Regions from separate parts of the Homo sapiens genome. Here region 2 is linked to region 1. Evidence: fine-mapped QTL for protein levels in blood plasma. A gene starts in region 1. The other region holds a variant in brackets. All regions are shown on one strand. Distances are from middle to middle.

Region 1 (8,345 bases):
TCCATATGTTTATTATGTTTAGTTGGCTTGTGGTGTTATCTATTTCTTTATTGATCTGTATGGTTGTTTAAGTTATATAATTTTAGTACAGCAAGAATTTGTTTATATGGTATAGGGTAGAACATTTAGTGCTAATGTCACCCTCTTCCCTCCTTATAAATTAAAAGGTAGCATGCCCAGGGTTCCAAGCTTCTTATGTATTCCTCACTCCATGAGGCTTGCTGAGATCACTAAATATCAGTTGTGCCTTCATAAGAAGGGAGGCACTGAAGAACTACATCCTTCTGCACCAACACGTATCTTTGATCTCATGTATGTTCTCTGCACTGCTTCTGTGGTAGTTCAATAACAAATTGAAGCACAAGTAACTTTATCCATGAATGAGATACCATTCTTCCCAATCTTTGAAATCTAGATCAAGTAGTCTGGTCTACTTTAAATAATTACACCAATATCTCCTAAAAACCCTACTGGATCTCCACTACCACCCCCAAATTACAAATTATAAAGTGCAGCTCATGTACTGGTATTGAAGTAATGCTCACTGTCACATCAAAGGTAAGTAAGGCACACAAAGAAAAGACAATCACAGGATATGCAATATGTGTTGTATAGTGTGGGAGAAGTTGCTGGCTGATCACAAGGGTAATTTCCTTGGCACTAGATGTGACCATTACCTGGTTCCAGCCAACAGAATGTAAATAGAAGACCTGTATGCCATTGTCAGCCCTTGCCCATAAAAACTTCCTATAATTATGAATTATAATTCTTTATGATCTTTCCCCTTCTGGTTTGATGCAAGCAATTTTGAAGGTCATGGTTGAAAACGGCAAAATTCCAAGGTAGGAAGTTGCAGAATCCCTGAATCATTACTTGGAGGAGAGTCATTTTATTAGTCAGAGTTCATCAGAGAAGCAGAATCAATAGGGTGTGTGTGTGTGTGTGTGTGTGTGTGTGTGTGTGTGTGTACATACAGGCATACCTCATTTTACTGCACGTTGATTTATTGCATTTTTCACAAATTGAAGGTTTCTGGCAACACTGCATTGAACAAGTCTACAGCTGCCATTTTTCCAACACTATAGTCACTTTATGTTTCTGTGACACATTTTTGTAATTCCTTTTTTTTTTTTTTTTTTTTTTTTGAGATGGAGTCTTGCTCTGTCACCCAGGCTGGAGTGCAGTGGCACAATCTCGGCTCACTGCAACCTCTGCCTCCTTGGTTCAAGCGATTCTCCTGTCTCAGCCTCCCGAGTAGCTGGGATTATAGGCGCGCGCCACTATGCCCGGCTAATTTTTGTATTTTTAGTAGAGACGGGGTTTCACCATATTGGTCAGGCTGGTCTCCAACTCCTAACCTCAGGTGATCCGCCCGCCTCGGCCTCCCAAAGTGCTGGGATTACAAGCGTGAGCCACCGCGCCGGGCCTTCTTTCACTCTCAACACACCTATTTAACACACTTTTTGTACATGCTATTTCTTATAACTGCGATGCCTTTCTGCTGTTATTCAGTTTTAATGGCTGACTGAGGATCCGACCAACACTGGTATATTCCAGAAGTGGTGTTTGACAATCACCTATTACTTAAAGTTTTAGTTGTCATGTGGCTTCAGGAATGCAATGTAGAATGATATAATAAAAAGTACACCCAACATGGCACAATCGCACCAAGTTTCTAGTTTTATTATTAAAAAGACAAGTGATAAAAACTGCTGTGGGCCTGTTTTCTCATTTGTGACGTGAACTAGACAATCCAAAGATTCTTTAAAGTTCATAATTCTAGTTTTCTATTTAAAAACACCAGTATTTATTAGGTACTTAAAAAGTACTACAGCTAACTTACAACACTTCAATTTCTAGACAAATGCATCAACATACTTACATCATTTACACACAATAATTAACCTTATCAACTAGCTAAGACAGAGAGTACAGAATATCTTGTTCTGAGGATTTGGAGATGAGATCTAAATGTTACTGGAAGATCAAACCAATAAGACGTGAAGGCAAAACTCCAAACTGAAAACAGGTCAAACTTACAATGACCCAAAGGAGGGCTACCTCGAGTGATGTCGACATTTGTAAAACAAGCAAAATCATCAGATGAGATCGGGATTTTGCCTGCTTTTAAGCAACAAAAAGTTTATACGTTAATGAACTCTTTTCTAATTTGAGACTTCTTCCTGTGGCCACGTTATTTACCTTTTCTCTCCCAGTCCTGAGCTTTGGTTGCCATTTGCTTTTAACTCCCAAGCAAACACCTCCTCTTTGTTGCTTGGGCAGATGCTATAAATAAAATCAGCGAAAGTGTCTGATTGATGGTAAACAGGCCTGGGGCGATAATGAGTCTAGTAATTAGGGCCTCTCTGGATTCAACCCAGCCCTTTCGCCCGCCCCCCGGCGGCGCACAATGGGCTCTGCGCGGGTATCGAGGGAGCGGCCAACAGTCCCTGGCCCCACCGCCGTGAAGTGGGGTCCCTTCGCTTCCACATAGGTGGAGACTGAGACAGCCGAGCCTATTTTGATCTCGTTTGGGTTTCTGTAAGGAGCAGTCAGCAGAGTGAGCAGCGCCCAGACGCGCCCCGGGCCCCCTCTACAACCATTGGGAGAGCGCCCCGGGCTCAAGCGTGGAACGGGGCTGCAATGGCAACCGCTGGAATAACGGCCTCGGCTCCCGGTGGCTCCTCAAGCCCGCAGGGGAGGCCGGCCGGGCTAGGCACCTAGCTGTCCCCGTGCTCGTCCGCCCCAGCCCGGGCGCAGCAGGTGGATGCGGCGGTGCTGAAGACACAAAGGGTCCCAGGTGGCACCACCTCCTGCGTCCACCCACGGGGCCGCCAGAGCCCAGTCAAGACCCTAGCTCGCTGCAGCCCCATCGCCAGACTCAACATCCACCCTCACTTGGCCCCGACCGGTTCAGCCCTCTGGCGGCAAAGTAACGGGGTGCCTGGGGGAAGCAGCAACGACTCCGCTTCCTCACCCCAATCTGCGCGCAAAGGGCAGCGGGACAGCGGGAACGCGGCCTGCTGCTCACGCACCTCTCTTGCGGCCTGTTTTCGGCAGTGACAGCTCAGATGTCCAAGTCGTTGCCACTTGGTCCCCGCGTCTCTTCAGACCAGTCCCGCCGGCGGCCGCGCAGCAGCGACTACTAACCGCGCGTGCGCGTGCGGTGGCGGGCGGGAGGCGGTGGCGGCCCGAGGTGTGTGCTACGCGCTCCTGCTCCGAGGGGCTCAACCGCCTCCAGGGGGAGCCGCACATGGAGCCTGTGCCGCCGCCGGCCGGTTGTGGCCTGGACCCCGCTCCCGGGTTAGCCCAGGAGGAATTCCCCCTGCAAGTCCGAAGACTTTTCCTCCTCTGAGCTCCCGCCCTCTCTGCAGACCGTGCTACCTCCTGTTGCGCAATGATTGGGTCCTGAATTTTATGTAAATCATATTTATGAACAACGTCCAGTAATAAGTGCAGCAAGATTAGGGCTCTAGGTTTTCTCCAGAGTTCTAGATGTTAACAGATCTGCAGTCATGGTGATTAATAAGGAGCTTTCCTGTCTGGTGTGTGTATATGACAAATACAGATGCGTTAAGTGTTAATAAATACATTGTATATAAAACAATATGTTCTTTTTCTCTCGAACAACACTATTAATAAGAGCTGCTAACATTTATTGTGTTCATTGTGCTCTAAGGGGCTTACATTCATTGTTTAACCTTCGTGGCAACCCAGGTGATGAAACTGATGGCAACTTGCTCGAAGTTACACAACATGTAAACAGTGGAAACGGGATGTAAATCAGGCCTGTCTCTCTCAGAGCCTGTAGTTTCAAACACATTGAAATAAATCTTAGCATAAACGTAGTTTATGCTATGATTATGCAATCACAAGCTGCTTTGCCTTTTATATATTGGATCAATATTAATTTTACTACTTAATATTTTATAGTAAATCTTGACTTTGAATTTGGTATAACAATTTAATTTTATTGGAAGATTAATTAACAACATTTAATTGACTTGTGAGTCTAAGACCCTTGTTGAAGAGTTTCAATCTTAAGGGTTTGGTGGCATTCCGTGCACAACGTATCATTATTGGCTAGGGGTCAAGATCACTGAGTTTTTTCACATTGCTTCACTAATTAAGACCAGCATTTCTAAACTTTTGACTTTGTCATCTCTGGGAGAGTGTTTGGATAGTGTTAAAATTTACTGGTTAAAAAGACATTTTGTTTGAGATACTTTGTAACAATATTATACCCTTTATTTCTTTCTTCCGTCCTTCTGACTTCTATTATTCAACATACTTCTGTGGCCCATAACAAATACACTTGAACTGCTAGAGAGGGATTTTTTAAAGGATCCATTCAAAGTTTGCAGTGAGGAAGCTGAAAACTAAAAATGTAAGAATAGTGAATTTTTGCAAGATTTAGTAGTATCTTCTTGGTCACATAGTACTCAAAACCTTGAGAACATTTTTTTACTCTTTGGCTGCTACATTCACTGCCTCCATAAATTAAACTCTAACTCCATAAAATCATCTAAAAGAGGTCCTCACCCCCTCCAGTCCCTGTGCCATTTCTCTAGTTTAGATTCTCACTACTTTAGAAACTGTTGTTCAGAGTTACCTAACTAGTTGCCCCCCTTCAGAGCCTCCCACCTACACTTCGTAGTTTAATCCTCAGCTCATTCAATAGTTTCCAATGACCCTTCATTACCCACAGCATGAAATCTAATCTCTAACCTTGAAATTTAAGGCCTTAACATATCTCCAAAATTATTTGCCACTTATTGAAAGGATGATTGAATATAATATTTATAATTTGTTTAATAGGCAACTTTTCATCAGAATAATACAATGTGATAATGTCAGAGGAGAAAGAATAATCTGCAAATAAGACAAGGGGTATGGCTTTTGAGAGTGATGTAGTGTTTAATAATACAAGCGGAGGAGTCCCAGAATGTAATGCTGAATGGTAGAGTCGTGAAGTGTTCTGACACATCAAAGTTGAAGAGAGATTTGGGAAGAGACCAAGGCAATGTAATCAAGATTGGAGGGACTAGAGTAATCAGAAATCTAGAAAAACATAAAAAGCAGGAAAGGTGACCTGGCATGGTGGCTCATGCATGTAATCCCAGCTCTTTGAGAGGCTGAGGCAGGTAGATCACTTGAGCCGAGCTGCCTGAGACCAGCCTGGGAAACATGATGAAACCCCATCTCTACAAAAAAATACAAAAAATTTAACTGGGCATGGTGGTGCATGCCTGTAGTCCTAGCTACCTGGGAAGCTGAGGTGGGAGGAAGCTGAGGTGGGATGAGCCCAGGAGGCAGAGGTTGCAGTGAGCCCAGATAGTGCCACTGCACTCCAGCTTGGATGGCAGAGTGAGACATTGTGTCAAAAAAAAAAAAAAAAAAAAAAAAAAAAAAAAGCAGAAAGGTTCATGCTCCTTGATGGAACAGAGTGATGTCCTGTTGGAAGCCTGTTTTGTAATCAAAATCAGAGCTGTGTTTTATTAATGTTCTACTATGTGCAAGTTGCTATATGCAATTGACCCACAGGTATCATCCTTATTTTACTTATGAGGAAATAGACCCAGATCAGTTACATAACTTATTCACACAGATCTTAAGATGCAGAGTGAGGATTCAAAGCCTGTGCCCTTTCCACAACACCTTGCCACTTGAAAAATGCAGAATATAGGAAATGCCTCGATTATCAGGATTAAAGAGCTATGCAGAATGAAGTTTTAACTCAAATACAATGAGTGGACTCAGAACCTAGATAATTCAAATAATACTTTAAAAATGTTTGTATATTTTCATATGTTTAGGAATGTGCTTTTTAATGGTGCAGAAAATAGAGAAAAGGAAACAAAGTATTCCACAAGTATTTCCAGTGGGTTGACTTTTATTTTCAAGATGTATAATTATGTCTATGGCAGAAAATGATCTTTTCTTTCTTATATTTATACTTATTTTCTGAGGTTTTTTTCCTTATTACTTTAACAAAAATATCAAACAATAGTAAATAATAGTAATGACAATAGTCATCATTGTTTTTCCCAGAATTCGTCTGGTTAAACTATATAGTTGGCAGAATGAGCCCATGCTGAGTTTTTTTCTTGTGTCTCAAGATAACCCCCCTCAGAAACACTACCCGACTTTAGGATTTATAGAATGATATACAGCTATAGTTATCAAAGAGTTATCAAAGAGTATTAGTATCAAGGCAAACAAATCAATGGAACAGAATAGATTCTATATAGACTTACATGTGTATGTATTATGGCCTGGATATGGTTGGTTTGTCCCAACCAAAACTCATGTTGAAATTTGGTCCCCAGTGTGGCAGTGCTGGAAAGTGGGGCCTAATGGGAGGTATTTGGGTCATGAAGGTCCTGTCCTCGTAGGTGGCTTGATGCCATTGCAGTAGTGAGTGAGTTCTTGCTCTGACGAGACTGGATTCATTCCCATGAGAATGGGTTGTTATAAAGCTGGGTGCCCCTCAGGTTTTCCCTCTTTGCATGCGTCTGCTTCCCCTTTGACCTTCTCTGCCATCTTTTGGCCTAGCACAAAAGCCTCACCACAAGCCAGAGCCATGTCCTTGAACTTCCCAGCTAGCCAGACTGTGAGTTAAATAAATCTCTTTTCTTTATAAATTACCCATTCCCAGGTGTTCTGTTATAGCAACACAAAACAGAATAAGACAGTGTGGGGAACTGGTTTTCAACATAGGTACACATGCAGTTGGTAGAGAAAGCCTAGTCTTTTCAACAAATTGTGGTGGTACAATTGAATATTCACATGTAATAAGTACATTTTTCAATCCATACCACACAGCATATATAAAAAAAGAGACTGGCTGCATTTTGCCCCGTCTTAGATATTTGTGGAACTTTGAACTTGAGGGAGATGATTTAGGATATATGGTGTAAAAAATTTCTAAGCAGCAAAGCACTCAAGAGGTGACTTGGGTGCTATTAGAGGCACTCCGTTTTAAAAGGGAAACAGAAAATAAAAGGTTTGAAAATTTGCAGCCTGACAATGTGATAGAAATGAAAATCTCCACTGCAGAAATTTTCATAAGTAACAAGAAGCCAAATGTTAATCCACACGACAATGGGAAAATGTCTCCACGGCATGTCAGAGGTCTTCATGTCAGCCACTCTCATCACAGGTCCAGAGACCTAGGAGGAAAAGACAGTTTTGTGGGCTGGGCCCAGGGCTCCTCTGCTCTGTGCAGCCTAGGGACTTGGTACTCTGTGTTCCAGCTGCTCCAGCCATGGCTAAAAGGGGTCAACGTACAGCTCAGGCTGCTGCTTCAGAGGGTGGAAGCCCCAAGCCTTGGCAGCTTCCAGGTGGTGAGCCTGTGGGTACCCAGAAGTTGAGAATTAAGGTTTAGGAACCTCTACCTAGATTTCATAGGATGTATGGAAACGCCTGGATGCCCAGGTGGAAGTTTGCTGCAGGGGCGGGGGTCTCATGGAGAAGCTCTGCTAGGGCAGTGCTGAAGGGAAATGTGGGGTCAGAGCCCCCCACACAGAGTCCTTGTGGGGCACCACCTAGTGGAACTGTCAGAAGAGGGCCACCATCCTCCAGACCCCAGAATGGTAGATCCACTGACAGCTTGCGCTGTGCACCAGGAAAAGCTGCAGACACTCAACACCAGCCTGTGAAAGCAACTGGGAGAGAGGCTATACTTTGCAAAGCCACAGGGGTGCAGCTGCCCAAGACCGTGGGAACCTACCTCTTGCATCAGCGTGACCTGGATGTGAGACATGGAGTCAAAGGAGAGCTTTAAGATTTGACTGCCCTGCTGGATTTCAGACTTGCATGGGGCTTGTAGCCCCTTTGTTTTGGCCAATTTCTCCCATTTGTAGTGGCTGTATTTACCCAATGCCTGTACTCCCATTGTATCTAGGAAGTAACTAACTTGCTTTTGATTTTACAGGCTCATAGGTGGAAGGGACTTGCCTTGTCTCAGATGAGACTTTGGACTGCAGACTTTTGAGTTAATGTTGAAATGAGTTAAGACTTTGAGGGACTATTGGAAAGGGATGATTGGTTTTGAAATGTGAGGACATCAGATTTTGGAGGGGACAGGGCAGAATGATATGGTTTGGCTGTGTCCCCACCTAAATCTCATCTTGAATTGTAACTCCCACAGTTCCCAAGTCTCATGGGAGGAACCTGGTGGGAGATAATTGAATCATGGGGGTGGGTCTTTCCCATGCTGTTCTTGTGATAGTGAATAACTCTCATGAGATCTGATGGTTTAAAAAAAACAGGAATTTTCCTGCACAAGCTCTCTTCTCTTGTCTGCCACCATGTGAGGTGTGACTTTAACCTTCTGCCATGAT
Region 2 (8,345 bases), 30 kb before region 1:
ACCAAAAGAAACATTTTGTGTTAAATGCTTTTAATAAAAACTACAGTGAGTAATTAGAATATGAAACTGCATATATATAATGTTAGAACGTATCCATAAATAATTACAAAGATAAAACTAGAGGGTTAAGTGGATAACATAGAAACTTTTAATATAAAAAGCTAGGTACACTCAAAAGATGTCGATTGATATCAGAAAAAAATCAGGGCTGGGTTCGGTGGCTTACTTCTGTAACCTGAGCACTTTGGGAGGCCAAGGTGGGCGGATCACGGTCAGGAGTTCGAGACCAGCCTGACCAACATGTGAAACCCCGTCTCCGCTAAAAATACAAAAGTTAGCCGGGCGTGCTGGGGTGTGCCTGTAATCTCAGCTACGTAGGAGGGTGAATCAGGAGAATCGCCTGAGCCCAGGAGGCAGAGGCTGCAGTGAGCCAAGATCACGCCAGGCCAGGTTTTTTGTTTTTTTGTTTTTTTGTTTTGAGTCTTGCTGTGTCGCCAGGCGGGAGTGCAGTGGCACGATCTCAGCTCACTGCGATCTCCACCTCCAGGGTCCAAGAGATTCCCCTGCCTCAGCCTCCTGAGTAGCTGGGACTACAGGCGTGCGCCACCACATCTGGCTAATTTTTTGTATTTTTAGTGGAGACAGGGTTTCACCATGTTGACCAGGGTGGTCTCCATCTCCTGACCTCGTGATCCGCCCGCCTTGGACTCCCAAAGTGCTGGGATTACAGGCATGAGCCACCGTACCTGGCCAAAAATCAGAATTTTAATAATACTAAATAATAAGTACATTAATTAAGCACAGGCATTAATTACTAAAATGTACAATATGAGTCTATTTGATCAAAATTCACTTCTTATATTTACTTCTAAAATAGAACTTTATTTCAAAGTGAGCATCAACTGATAATTAGGGAAGAATATAGTATGAAGTGATTTATTTCCCCAGAAAATTAAATAATTGATGCTCTACTTTTAAAATATAAATTAGTTGAGGTCTATTTTCTTTGACATCTTAAAATTAAAAATGAAACTTCCAAAAGTTGACATAGGTAATTAGATATTTAAATAGAAAAGATCACAACATTTTTAACTTCACTAAATAATTGGAACAAGCGGTTGTTACCTGATAGTTAGGATTATCGACCAGTGGAGGTCTCCATACTCCTTTGTATTTTGGGTTATCTATCATGGGAGGTTTCCACTCACCACACCCAATCCGACATGCTGGATTAAGAATCTGAGGTGCCTCCCATTCTCCATCCGTGTCTTCATTCCTTAGGATATTAAAACAAAGCAAATACAGTAACCTCAAGTCTCAGATCAGTCATATAAACTAGTAACAAAAATGCATGTAAGAAACATTTGAAATCGACATTTGAAGATGAAGAGTGCTTACCAGTCATCAGGTTTTTCAGCATTAGGATCAGGGATAAATTTTGGTTCATCATCAAGCCAGCCAGCAGGTTTAACAACACTTGAATCTTCTATTTGGGCAGGTTCACTTTCATCCCTGTAAATACAACGTTTTATATTACTAATTATTCAGAAAGTTTAAAAATGCATGTTACAACACTAAGAAGGTACCATAAAATTATTTCCCTCCCTTTTGTTTGTGCCTGTTATTTGTCCTCATCTACTACCCACCTAAATCTTTTGCTAACTTGCCAATTTTTGGTACATATTCCCTGTTGTGCTCTATGCATACATGCACACACGTATACATTCTTTTTTTTAATACGAATGATAGCATTCTATACATAATGTATTAGACCTTGCTTTTGTTACTTAAAAACTCAGTCATTCATCAACAAATATATATTGCATGCTTACTATGTGTCAAGACTGTTCGAGGAGCTCCATTATTATTATTTTTTTCTTGAGGTGGAGTCTTGTTCTTGTTTCCCAGGCTGGAGTGCAATAGTGCGACCTCAGCTCACTGCAACCTCTGCCTTCCGGGTTCAAGCAATTCTCCTGCCTCAGCCTCCAGAGTAGCTGGGATTACAGGCACCTGCCACCACGCCTGGCTAAGTTTTTGTATTTTTAGTAGAGATGGGGTTTCACTATGTTGGCCAGGTTGGTCTTGAACTCCTAACGTCAGGTGATCCACCCACCTCAGCCCCCCAAAGTGCTGGGATTACAGGCATGAGCCACCATGCCTGGCTGGAGCATATATATATACATATATATATATATATGTATATATATATATATGTATATATATATATATACACATATATATATATACACATAGCTTCATTCTTAACAGTTGCATAGTTTTCTACTTGAGGATACACCATAATTTATTTAGCTTATCTCCTCTTGGAGGACATTTAGTGTTTCCAAAATTTTACTATTATTAATACAAACAATGCCATAGTGAATGTCCTAGAATATATGCCATTTCTCATCTGTGAAAATATAATTGTTAAGAGTATGGACATTTTAAATTTTGATAGTAGCATCCAAATTACTCTCTATAATGGTTACACTCCACTTCCGGTTCTACCAGCAGCATGCAAAAGTACCTATTTTCTCCTGTCCTTGCGAAGAGTGTTACCAAACTTCTTGATTTCTGCCCATGTGGTAGGTGAAAAATGGTATCTCACTGAACTTTGAATGTACATTTAGTAGCATAAGTGATACACAAAAACTATTTTTTCTTAGCTCATTACCTTTATACTAAGAAATTAGCTCTCTGTCAGCTATATGATTGAAAATAATTTTTCCTGGTTCTTGTGTGTTTTTTGAAATAGTTTAGGGAGGTTTTTTTTTTTGCAATATACAAATCATTTATTTTCATGTAGTTGAACTTATTTTTAAAGGATTCTTGGATTTTATGTCATATTTGGAAAGTTCTTCCCTATTCCAATATAATTTTTAAAACTCTCCTTATTTAATTCTAGCATTCTTATTTTAAAAAGAACACTTAGGCTGGCGTGGTGGCTCAAGCCTGTAGTCTCAGCACTTTGGGAGGCTGAGGCGGGAGGATCACGAGATCGGGAGTTCGAGACCAGCCTGACCAACATGGTGAAATCCCATCTCTACTAAAAATACAAAAATTAGCCGGGCGTGGTGGCGCTTGCCTGTAATCCCACCTACTCATGAGGCTGAGGCAGGAGAATCCCTTGAACCCAGGAGGCAGAGGCTGCAGTGAACTGAGATCACGCCATTGCATTCTAACCTGGGTGACAGAGCGAGATTCCATCTCAAACAAAAACAAAAACAAAAACAAAACACTTAGTAAATTCTGAAGTATATAAACATAAAGTACTGAACTACTAATACAATTTTCATCATTACAGAAAGATAGAAATTTTAAACAAGAGGACACTTCATGATTTTCCAAATGAGTTACAAAATAAACAGAAATAATCAACTTTACAAATGTATAGATTTGTGCTTGCCTGATACCAATGTCATCTTGAGTTTCTGAGTGCTCAGAGTAACCAAAAGTTAAAATTTAATGGAGCATTTCTTTTAGTACTTTGTAAAACAAATTCTAACACATTTCAACAATCAGAATGAAGCAGTTATATGTGGTTTCTCTCATTTAAGGGCAAACATACTCTTTTTTTTTTTTTTTTTTTTTTTTGAGACAGAATCTTGCTCTGTCACCAGGCTGGAGTGCAGTGGCACGACCTTGGGCTCACTGCAGCCTCTGCCTCCTGGGTTCAAGCAATTCTCCTGCCTCAGCCTCCCGAGTAGCTGGGATTACAGGCACCCGCCGCCATGCCCGCTAATTTTTGTGTTTTTAGTAGAGACGGGGTTTCGCCATGTTGGCCAAGCTGGTTTCGAACTCCTGACCTCAGGTGATCTGCCCACCTCGGACTCTCACACACATACAATAAAGATCAAACTAGGAATGAAAATTAAAGCACTGGTATTTTGGATTTATGAAATTTTTAATCCACAGCATTGAAAACATAAAAAATAAATATATATTAAAAAATGCAACATAATTATCAATAGAAATAAAAAAAAATTACAGGGAGGGAAGTGTAAAATCCATTTTAGAAAATATTTCACCCAAAATACTAAAAATAAGTAGTTCTGATGTTTAAAAAAATAAACTTCATGGGTTGTAAACTTCACTTATATGTTGTTTCATTACCTAGTTATGCCAGATAATGCTTTGCTACCGAATTATTTGCTTACCAGTCTTCTGGTTTGACGGCAGAAGGATCAGGAATTTTTGCTCTTTCATCCCATTCCTCAGGTTTTTTATCATTGG[G/A]ATCTTCAATTTCTTTGGGAGGTTTGATAGGAGGAACCACATCCTCTAGGAGGCTTCCTTTGTTTACAACTGTTTGATCAACTAACACCTCAAATGTGTCATCTGGATTCATCACTAAGGGACCAATTTAAATAAATTATAGTTATCATTTTGATATACGCTTTAAAGATAATCTTCTAAATAATGTAACTACCCTTAACTCCATGGGTAAAGCTTTTTTCCCAACCAGAAATAGAGGAATAACCAATGTATTGAACTAAAACATTCTAAAATCACTAGATACATTTCCTAAAGATAAAATTTTGTTTTAAACTGCATTTTTTACAATAAAATGCTCCATTACTTCTCAAATAAAAAATAATACCAAATAGCTCTGTTTTGGGACTCATAACGAGTCAGCTTCACTCTTTTATAGTTACAAAATACAAGCTAATCTTTTTCAGCATTTAATTTTTTTGATACCATCTTAAAGTGTTGTAAGTATAACAAAAAATTAATTTATTCTGTTCTAGTAATATTTTCTCATTATTTCTACAGTTTACTTGGTGTTCCCCCAAATGCCTAGTTTTTTCAATTATTTCATAAAGATATTTATTATATCACATCTGATATTGAAGATGAAATGGGCATTGCCCGAGCAGACAAAATGAATGTTTCTACCACTGCAGCATTTGGGGAAAAAGATTGAAATACTTTAATCTTGGGTGGAGTTGAGACGTGAGAAAGGAAGCCAATAGGGCCATTTCAAAATGTCCTATTAGGTTCCAATATGCTCTGATTTTGATAGTGGGCTGACCAGAGCTCTACAGCCATTATACTTGAGAATGGGAGAAACAACTGCTTATGATGTCCCTCACCCCCATATCTATGCAAATTCCTATTTACTTAAGTATATTAATATATGGCTGCTCAATGCTTCTCCTTTCGAAGTACATGCCACAACCAACACAAGGTAGGACATAACAATAATCACAACTGCCTACAGAATAAAGTCTAAACTTTTTAGTCTGGCATTAAGGGCCTCTTCCTTTTTATTTTTTAGTTTTCTGTTCTGGCCTCTTCCTTTTTATTTTCTAGTTTTCTGTTCTTACAGCACCACTGTCACAACGTCTAAAATGTCCTTTCACCCTACTGTCTTCAACATTCTATCTGTACTTCAAGACGAGTTCAAATATAATCTTTCCTAGCTTTGTTCCAAGTCTCTAAGCTGGAAGTAATATTGCTTGTGAACTCTTAGCTGTGCCTCATCTCTCTTTCTTATATGGTACTTTATTTTCTACCCGTGCTGTCATTATACATGTCCTATTTTCTGAAAAAGATAAGCTCCTTCAGGATGGGGTACACATTTGTTTTCTTGTAAAGCACTTGCCATGAATACATCAATAGTCAGCAAATATTTTTGAATACATGAATGAATTAAAAGGGTATACCAAGGGTATAAAGATGAGTCTTCCTGTCTGTAAAGAACTTTTTAAGGTCTACATCTGGAGGTTTGGCATGTTTCTCTTCGAAAACTCCAGTTTTGGGATGTTTATGTCTGAAGATAAAATGAAGTTTATAATCTTCTCCACATTTATCTGGTCCAAACATAATGATATAGGATGTTTTATCATAAAAGTTTTCCTTCAAAGAGAGATGAGTGTTGGCATTAGTCCAGAATCACAGACTATTTAATGCATTTCTGTATTTTATCCAATGGGTAGAGTTTACAAAAATATATTAAATGGTAATTCACCAGAGAGCTAGCTATTTAATACAAGTGACAATAAAGGACATGGGAAAATGACAAATTTTACTTCAATATAGATTTTTTTAAGTACACACTACTTCCTGACGATGTGGGACAGAAGCTGAAAATACTCTAGCAACACCATAATATGCTTTAACTCTCTATGTAAATCTATATTACTAATATTTTTATTGAGAGAATTAGGCATTAGAGGAAAGCATATTTATGGCCTTAAGACTAAAATTATCACCCATTACTATTACTTAGGAAGATACCAGAAAATGACCCTCTGAGCACAAGATGAAGAGAGATTCATTCAGACATAAAAACAGACACGAGGACATGAATTTCTCTTTATTTGGCATGGCATAGTGGTTAACAGCATGGGGCATGGAGTCAGATACTGGGGTTCAAATCCTACCACTGCCTCTTAAACTAGTTGGGTGTCACCCTGACTCAAATTTTTTAAAGCTCTCTGCACCTCCATTTCATCACCTCTGAAGTATGGAGATGATAATAGTACCTACCTTATAAGAGTTCTCTAAGGATTAAGTGAATTAATCAGATAAAGTGCTTATAGAAATACTTGGCATTAGATTTTTTTGTCATCCTACCTTCAAGTGTTCATCTAAAACAAGAGCTTCAACATATACTCCAATGGCCTCTCCTTCACTTGATCCTAATAATAATGAGTAGTACATGAAAAAGTCTCCCATCTACATTTCATAGCTTATGTACAGCTAAGTGTTCTGAAAAATATACCCCTGATGTCTCATCTATCGTATTTCTGTTATATGCAGAAAGTCTGAAACAGCCTTTTACAGGAGAAGGCTATAAGAAATATCCCCAACTTTCCAATGGTCCTAATACAACCTCTTAGAAGTATAAACCTATTTCATCATGAAAAGTTTTTAAAATTAGTTACTTTCTGTGGGTTGCTAACCCCTTTTAATTTGGTTCTTCGGCCATTTTGTTTCACTGCTATGCTTTGTTATGCTTCTCTAAACAAACTTAAGAGTCTTATTCTGTAAAGAAAATAACTCTAAGCTATATTTCAAAAGAAATTTATAAGTATCACGTAGTTTTTGTCCTACAGACATGGTAAACTTTTTCATGTTGTTAAAGATTATAAAATTGATGCCTTCAAGTAACACAGCTTTATATAAAACTTGAAGGCGAATTGTAAGAGCTATGTAAATTCACATTGAAAAAAGATATCTACAATTCTTTTCAATTTCAGTTGAAGACAAAATATTCAGTTTTATCATTTGTTCCTTAAAAATACTTATTAACTTTAATAAGGTTTTCTTAAATATTAAAATATCATACCAGAATCAAATCATCAGTGTCTGCTAGGAGTTTAATGTATGCACCTCCACAATCAATACCATCTTGAAAATTTACTTCATATCTGAATAAAGGGAAAAAGAACCGTACTACTGATAAATAAAATTTACTAGTTGCTCTTTAAAATATAATCTTATTATTCTCAATTCATGTAAGTATAAATTTTTTTACATTATCAGAAAACTCATATAAAGCATATCTACAACCTATAGGAAATAAGCAGAAACGCTTTTCTACTACTCTAAAACAAGACACATCATTAAAATATTAAAAATAGAATGATTACAATCAACTGCAGACAAACCAATCAATTTGTTTAAATTTTTTTCCATCAAAACTGATAAATTAAGCATAAGATACTGTAACTAAAACTACAACAGGAAATTTCAAATTCTGATAAGGTAAGCACTATACTTACACTTTATAAACTAAAAAAAAATAAAGGCCGTAAGAACCACAGCTACAGCAAGATTTCTACGAAATTGCTAATGATCTTAGATACCTAGAGTTCATTACACCTTACCATGTTAAATAAGTTGTACATTTAATTAAATAGCTCCAGCAAAGAGATTCATAATCTCAGTCAATAAGCTGGATTTCAGACCTAAACAGCCAGGAGATATGGGAAATTTTCACTGTTTAGTATAACAGCTAAAAGAATGAACATGAGAGTCTCTTATGAATTTACAACACAGTGTAATTCTCAGCAAAGTTTTTTTTTCTTTATTGGTAACTTTAAAAGGAAATAGCCTTGCTATGGCAATGAGGCATAGACTTACGAGATTTTTTGTTGTTAAATTAACGAATTATATGTGACAAAAATCAACAAGGAAATGGCTGTCAAACAGTAAAAACAAAAAAGGTTATGATTTCATTAAATGAATTAAATCAAAAAGACATGAAAACTAGAGAAATAACCAGAAATAATGATCATTTTAATAAAGGACTATAGTTGTAAATGTTTCTGAAGAAATTTAGTGACAAGAAGGTAAAACATGATAGTATACAAAATTTTAACAGTTTGAACTCAATTGGT

Which allele goes with the higher level. Alleles are on the strand shown, and positions count from the first base shown. The strength of an association depends on the size of the effect and on how common the allele is.
For the plasma level of the protein whose gene starts at base 3,147 in region 1, allele A in region 2 goes with a lower level than allele G (weak association).

What was found. PIP is the chance, under the fine-mapping model, that this variant and not a neighbour inherited with it causes the effect. The UK Biobank Pharma Proteomics Project read protein levels with antibody pairs (Olink). The fine-mapping took linkage between variants from a reference panel, not from the people measured, so its PIPs are less certain.
Region 2: its variant is fine-mapped to the plasma level of the CLGN protein (UK Biobank, PIP above 0.99). The variant lies in the coding sequence of CLGN. If it changes the protein, the assay may bind it differently, which can mimic a change of level.

What each region holds. Positions count from the first base shown.
Region 1 is chr4:140,424,502-140,432,846 of GRCh38, forward strand. CLGN (calmegin) reads right to left here and starts at 3,147. Exons shown (of 15, transcript NM_004362.3): 1 at 3,036-3,147. RefSeq lists an enhancer at 2,304-2,353.
Region 2 is chr4:140,394,694-140,403,038 of GRCh38, forward strand. CLGN (calmegin) reads right to left here. Exons shown (of 15, transcript NM_004362.3): 6 at 7,292-7,373; 7 at 5,664-5,856; 8 at 4,158-4,347; 9 at 1,399-1,512; 10 at 1,126-1,276. Among named protein-coding and RNA genes, the nearest start is that of SCOC, 25 kb to the left of the region's middle. The variant G/A (reference allele first, on the strand shown) is at 4,234.